Homo sapiens: one gene and its partner. The protein of the gene in region 1 interacts with the protein of each later gene in a pairwise test. Each region holds a gene or a part of one and is shown in the gene's direction. Other genes may lie near its edges.

Region 1 (3,751 bases):
ATGGCCTGAGACTCATGGATTCTACACACATTCCCTTTCATTAGCACTTCTGACTGTGGTCTTGGCAATGGACATCATTTTGGCAAGCATTTGCTGAAGGGAATTTGCTATATGTGCCTAAGTCAAAATGGAATGGAAGTTTGTAGTATGTACTGTTGAAAACCAATGGGAGAGGATGGTGGGAGGGTTAGGTTGAAACATGGTATTCCAGTTATTATTGCTGTATAACAAAGTACCCCAGAATTTAGCAGCTTAAAACACCCATACTGTGGCCAGGCGCGGTGGCTCATGCCTGTAATCCCAGCACTTTGGGAGGTTGAGGAGGGCGGATCATGAGATCAGGAGATCAAGACCATCCTGGCTAACACAGTGAAACCTCATCTCTACTAAAAATACAAAAAATTAGCCGGGGCCGGGCACAGTGGCTCATGCCTGTAATCCCAGCACTTCGGGAGGCTGAGGCAGGCGGATCACAAGGTCAGGAGATCGAGACCATCCTGGCTAACATGGTGAAACCCCGTCTCCACTAAAAATACAAAAAAAAATTAGCTGGGCATGGTGGCGGGCGCCTGTAGTCCCAGCTACTGGGGAGGCTGAGGCAGGAGAATGGCGAGAACCTGGGAGGCAGAGCTTGCAGTAAGCTGAGATCGTGCCACTGAACTCCAGCCTGGGAGACAGCAAGACTCCGTCTCAAAAAAAAAAAAAAAAAAATTAGCTGGGCGTGGTGGCGAGCACCTGTAGTCCCAGCTACTCAGGAAGCTAAGGCAGGAGAATTGCTTGAACCCGGGAGGCGGAGCTTGCAGTGAGCCGAGATCACACCACTGTACTCCACCCAGCGTGACAAAGCGAGACTCTGTCTCAAAAAACAAAACAAACAAACAAAAAAAAAACACCCATATGATGCTCATGGATTCTGTGGGTGAGGGAATTTGGACCTGGCACCATGGGGAGGCCTCTCTCTGCTCCCTGATATGGGATGGAATGCAGGCTCAATGGCTGAGGGCTGGAATCATCTGAAGGCTCCTTCACTGATGCCTGGTACGTGGGATAGGATGATTCAAAGGTAAGGGCAGCCAACTGGAACACCAATATATGGCTTTTCTGTGTGGCTTGGCTTTCAGTGTTAGCCTCTGTGTAGTCAGGCTTTTTATGTGGTGGCTCGGGTCTCCAAGTGTGAGTGTATCAGTGACAAGATGGAAGTTGCATCACCTTTTATGATCTAACCTCAGAACACACCACCATTTTCTTTTGAGACAGAGTTTCACTCTTGTTGCCCAGGCTGGAGTGCAATGGCGCGATCTTGGCTCACTTCAACCTCCGCCTCCTGGGTTAAGCAATTCTCCTGCCTCAGCCTCCCAAGTAGCTGGGATTACAGGCATGGGCCACCACACCCAGCTAATTTTGTATTTTTAGTAGAGATGGGGTTTCTCCATGTTGGTCAGGCTGGTCTTGAACTTCCGACCTCAGGTGATCCGTCCGCCTCGGCCTCCCAAAATGCTAGGATTACAGGCATGAGCCACCACGCCCGGCCCACACCATCATTTTCATTGTGTTCTTTTGGTCCAAGCAGTCACAAGCCTACTCAGATTCAAGGGAGGGGAGGTAGATTTCACCTTTTAATGGATCAATGGCCAGATCAAATTGTAGACAAACATGTAAGACAGAAGATACTGTTGCAAACATCTTGGAAATACAGTCCGCCACATTTGGTAATAAGAAGGTAACCTTTTCAGTTTCATTGGCTTCCTTAAAATATTTAGGGTATAATCCCCAAGAGCTAACAGCATACTAAAAAAGTGGTTAGGGGCTGGGCGTGGTGGCTCATGCCTATAATCCCAGCACTTTGGGAGTCCAAGGCAGGCAGATCACATGAGGCCAGAAGTTTGAGACCAGCCTGGCCAACATAGTGAAACCCCATCTCTACTAAAAATATGAAAATTAGCTGGCCGTGCTGGCACGCCTGTAATCCCAGCTACTCAGGAGGCTGAGGCACGAGAATCTCTTGAGCCTGGGAGGCGGAGGTTGCAGTGAGCCAAGATCATGCCATTAGACTTCAGCCTGTGTGACACAGTGAGACTGTGTCTCAAAAAAAAAAAAAGAAAGAAAAAAAGTGGTTAGGTGTACCACTTGAAAACTAGTACTTTGTCCGTAAATAACCCTCAAACTGGAGAAATGTTCCCTTCTTTCAGCAATCTTATACTGTTCCTTCTGGAACAAGGTAGAATGCCACTCTTTGGAAGTTTCACGTAGCCTTGAGAAAAAGTAAATAAATACAAGGCAGTACTTTCCCTGAGTCCCTGTGTAGTCAATATGACTCCTCAAATCCCACTGCAATAACTCCTTCCAAATTTTGAGTGAAAACAAGTTGGTTAACTGCTGCCAGACATCTAAAGGAAATGCTCTTATAATCTTTTTGTATAAATAGTGATTTTGTGTTTAGGTTTTGGAATGGTTGTTTAATTATAAGATTTAGTGGAAGATACAGCCCTTCAGATTCTAACTGATGTGTTTTGAAGGAATGAAACTTCAACCATAAGCTGACTTTTAGTGCTGTAACTTAGTTCTGGGAAGAGCTGAGGATTGCCTGATCAAAATGCCCGTCTGTACTGGAAAGCGTTTTCTTCTGCTATTCTGATGGAAAACTACTTCTCATGCTCTCATTAATGTTATATTTGCAATGGAGTCATGTTGGCCTCTACCCCAGCACACTCTGATGCTGGGCTGGTGATAAGAGGCTTGTGAGCCTGAAATTGGATGCTGACCTTGTGGGACATTGATAGGACAGAGATGACATGGCAAGTACCAGCATCACGTCTCAGAAAATAGCTCCCAGAGGTTTGGAGGGAGTTTACTACAAGAAGATAATGGTCCTTGCCTCGGATATCTTCTGTGTGAGAGATACTGGAAATGGAATGCTTGACTGATAACTGAAGAAGGGAGAAAGTCCTATGGGAGTGGCCCCCAAATATCTCTAGAAGAGTCTCCACAAGGTTGCCCTTCATTTAGGCGAGAAATGAATCTTTTCTCTTATTTGGGTGAGAGCACAGGGATTCTTATAACTCGTCTGTCCTCATGGCTGGGACAGAGCCAGGGCGTAGAAGATGTCATTGAACCCTGCTCTGGTCAGGCCTAGCTGTTTTCACATTAGACCATTTCTGGGCTTTTGGTGTCTGTATCAAAAATCATTATGTTCTGGCTGGGCGCGGTAGCTCACGCCTGTAATCTAGCACTTTGGGAGGCCGAGGTGGGCAGATCACATGAGGCCAGGAGTTCAAGACCAGCCTGGCCAACATGGTGAAACCCTGTCTCTGCTAAAAATACAAAAAGTAGCTAGGCGTGGTGGCACACACCTGTAATGCCAGCTACTCAGGAGGCTGAAGCACGAGAATTGCTTGAACCCAGGAGACGAAGGTTGCAGTGAGCTGAGATCGAGCCACTGCACTTCCACCTGGGTGACAGAGTGAGAGTGTCTCAAAAAACAAAAAACAAAAAAAAAAAGGTGTTCAGGTCCCTCTGCTGAAGCTACTCAGCAAAGTCACCAGCACCAGTCTCCATTAAACAAACAAACAAACAAAAATCAGGCCGGGCACAGTGACTCATGCCTGTAATCCCAGCACTTTGGGAGGCCAAGGCGGGAGGATCACCTGAGGTCAGGAGTTCAAGACCAGCCTGGCCAACATGGTAAAACCCTGTCTCTACTGAAAATACAAAATTAGCTGGGCGTGGTGGCAGGGGCCTGTAATCCCAGCTA
Region 2 (3,751 bases), on another chromosome or scaffold:
TCCCTAGCTTCTCCATTTCCCCACTGATGGTTTTTGGGCTTAGCCCTAAGAAGACCCTGAAGCACATCTGCTGTTTGCCTAGTATAACTGATGATTAGCAAGAACATTTTACTCCCAAGGGATGTGTCTGCATTTTGGATGAATTAGCATTTTTGCGTCCAAATCCCGGGGCAGCTATTATCTTTATTTTAAACAGAACATGGCAATTTACTCTACTTGGGAATCAGGCTTTATGTAGCTGATGGCCTCTCCTAAGCTGTGGTGTTCATCAGTTTAAAAACTCTAGGAGTTGAAAGGAACGTTAGAGGTCATTTGGGTTAGCCTGCTCCCCAGTGCAGAAATATTTCTTACTTTATCCCTAACAAAAAATATGTGTTTAAACTTCACTGGTGGTGGAGATTTCCCTATGATATCCTTCAAGAAATGCACTTAATTGCTGTTTTATCTGTTGAGCTGAAGGAAATGGAAAACCAAGTTTCCATTTGCTCATTTAACACCATTTATTAAGCACCTGCTATGTGTCAGGAACTTGTTCTAGGTGTTGGGGATATAGCAGTGGACAAGTTTTCTTCTTACCAGGAGCTTTATTGTTTGAGAGATTTGGTGTATTAAAGTGACAGACTTCAGTGTAAATGTGTAAATCATTTAGGGAGAAAAGGAATTATATGCCTATTGCTGACTCAGCAAATATGATTCAGGTGAAGGATCATATCTGTCTGGGGATAATTATAGGCAATTCTTAAAGATGAGGGCAGGGAGTGTGGGAAGTGGAGGAGTACTGCCAATAAAATGTTACTTTCCCTTGTTATAAAATTGCCATTTTTGTGACTTGAAAATGTGGCCCCAGATGGATGGCTGTGGTCGGTGTGCCTGGAGAAACATGAATGGAGCCAAGAAAGGTCCAGGGGAGGGCCACCTAAACAATAAAGGGACTGTCATCTCAGGTCAGTTTTCAAAAATTAGAACTTTTTAGTCAGTGATATAAATTATACATACTGAGGCTCTATAAGCAGTTATTAAGGAATGCAAGAAGTTTCTGAGGTACAATAATCTCTCCTTTTAAAATCTTTCGAAAGTTATAGATTAATTTATCTTTTAAATTATCATCTTTAAAAATGATGTGTCTACATTACAGTGAAAAGGAGACCCAAGGAATTGATTAAAAGAACAAAACTGCCCATAACCCACTATCCTGATATAATAGTTCTTAGGTGTTTAGTCTATTTCACCACTTTTTTGAGCAGACATAACCCATCTTGTATAAACTGCCACCTAGAAACCAAACTGTGTGCCTGAATGAGTCCTGTGTGACCATTTGAATAATACTCTTAAAATGAAGGAAGTGGATGCTTAGTGTTTGGGCATGGGCCATCCTATGTCTGCAAAAGGAACAAATGATTGTGGGACTCTGCTGTTTCCTTGATTTGGATGGCCTACTTGATTGATTGCCAGCAGACCAAGTGTTTATATTCTACCCAATGATGATGTCACACTGATCATGATCATCGGATTTAGACTGTGGCGCAGCCCACAGAGTTTTCTGTGCCTGTGTTTCTCTTTATAGGACTCTAAATTTGGTTGGGGATAGACGCTGCTCTTGGATTTTATCATTTTATTGGGATCCATCTTTCATAGTCTTAGCTAGACCTGTCTCAAATGGGGTTAGCAAAGCTGAACCATTATTTAAATGAAACCCAACACATCTAAAGCTTCTATACTTTTTTCCAAGGAGATCTACTTTACAATATAATTGATAACCTCCCCCGCCCCCTTTTTAAAAATCTGGATTGACAGAAAACTCTCAAATAACAATACTTCCCCTGACCCACTCATGCCTGCTGGCAGCCCATCAATGCAGCAGCTGTTGAACATAAAAACAATACTTGGGCTAAGGTAATAGAGACAGACTTCTAAAAGGAATTTGCTGGGCGATCTAAAATGAAATTCACATTGTTCCAGGCTTGACCTGAGATAGAAATCAGGAGTCTGTTCCCTGATATGACAAAGCCAAGGCACCAGAGCCACCTCTTTTTAGGATCGACGCCAATGAGTGTGAGCACATCGCTCAAGCCAAATGGCACAGGAAGTCCAGTTCTGTGGACACATTCTGCCCACCTGCTGAACTGTGACTGGGTAGGATGGAGTGTGAAACATTGAGAGAGGGGTAGGCTGAGGTGGTGAGGTGGGAAAGAGACCATATTCTAAAAGGACCATTTTTCTGACAAGTGGGAGCTTTGTTTGTTCTTGTCTGTGTGTGATTTCTTTTTTATTTATTTATTTATTTTTTTTTGCATTTTTATTGTACAAAAAGGAAATGAAAATATATATAGCATAACATTAAAATTTACCTACTTGTTTTTGATAATAACATTCCTTTGGGAAGAATTGATTTTTTTTCTCTTATAGAAGTTGAGGCACAATAATGTGGATAGGTTAGAGATTGAAAAACAAAATAATCCTCAACACCCTAACACATCAGTACTCATTCTTGCCTTTCCAACCCACCTGTTTTATCAGACATTTCTTGTGTACCTTCTATATGCAGGTGCTGAAATTATGTTGGTGAGTACTTGACTGCAGTCTTTGCTGCTCTCATGAAATCTCTCTATAGGCTGAGTAAGCAATAGGATTTAGCAAGGAAAGGGAGATGGGGAGGTGGTTGTGGAAGTGTTCCAAGCCCAGGAAACAGCATGTGCCAAGCTCTGGAAGTGAGGGAGAGACTCTTAAGAAATCCAATGTAGCAGGAACGTCAGCCTTAGGGTTGGGTAGGGAGAGTGGACAGACAAGAGGCTGAGGAGGTGGGAAGAGACTCAGTTGTGCAGTGCATTCTTTATAGGCATGTATTTACTGTGTAGCTCTTTAAATGCTTTATATTCCATCCACCCTTTGCCCATAACTTAAGATATCTCAGATCCTTGAAATTGGTTGAAGGAAGACAAAGAAAATCTGCAGACTACTAATTCTTCAGGATTCAATAGGAGAGTTGAGAAACGATCAGGGGAGTTGATTCCTTTCATGCCCAAATTGAACCCTTAAAGAATAGAGGAAATGAAGACTGACAGAGGACACAGAGAAGGAGAGTCCAGTGACAACATATGACAACGACAATGCTAGATCTTCCTCTGCCCAGTTTTATGCATTGAGCCTTTCCTCAGGATTCAGAACTAGAAGTTATTATTTTCTTAGACCTAAGCAACTGAGTCCTGAAGAGTGTGGTGGGGCTGGGGGGGAAGATGGTAGGACTCTTTCCACCTTGGACTTCAAGTGGCAATCAGTGTTCTCCAAAAAGGAAATTAAAAACTCATTGGATTTTATGAAAACAGGAGAAGAGTCTGTTAAAAGCCAGGGTTTACTTAAGACTTCATGCTGTTTTAGTTATCTCATCTCTTTGAGTACTGTCTTCATACCAGTATAAATTTTGTGAATCTCATTAAGGTACTCATTAAACTTACTCTGACCTGCTGTTGGAGGGCAAAAGGCTTGACCAAAAACTTCTGTGCACGGGAAGCTTGTTCAGCATCTTGATTTTCAAATTTATTCAATTCAAATTACTGTCAAGACAATTATCTCACCTTATACTCACAAAATACCTGAGAAGTAATATAGAGAAGGAAAATGAGACAGGAAGAAGTTGTCAGTTAATCTGCTACAGCAAATTTGTGGGAGAGCTAGGCTTTGGAACCAAAGGCTTTTAGACCAACATGCATACAGACCTCCCATCTGATTCAGTCAGTTAAGCTAAATTATGTTG

What was found. The genes of interacting proteins can lie anywhere in the genome.
Region 2: the proteins of MORN4 (region 1) and SEPTIN11 interact in binary tests that used the Homo sapiens proteins (3 or more experiments, as listed by UniProt).

Annotation. Positions count from the first base shown.
Region 1 is NC_000010.11:97,626,886-97,630,636, reverse strand, and holds part of MORN4 (MORN repeat-containing protein 4), read left to right. Parts: intron 1-3,751. UniProt on the Homo sapiens protein: Plays a role in promoting axonal degeneration following neuronal injury by toxic insult or trauma.
Region 2 is NC_000004.12:76,952,703-76,956,453, forward strand, and holds part of SEPTIN11 (septin-11), read left to right. Parts: intron 1-3,751. UniProt on the Homo sapiens protein: Filament-forming cytoskeletal GTPase. May play a role in cytokinesis. May play a role in the cytoarchitecture of neurons, including dendritic arborization and dendritic spines, and in GABAergic synaptic connectivity.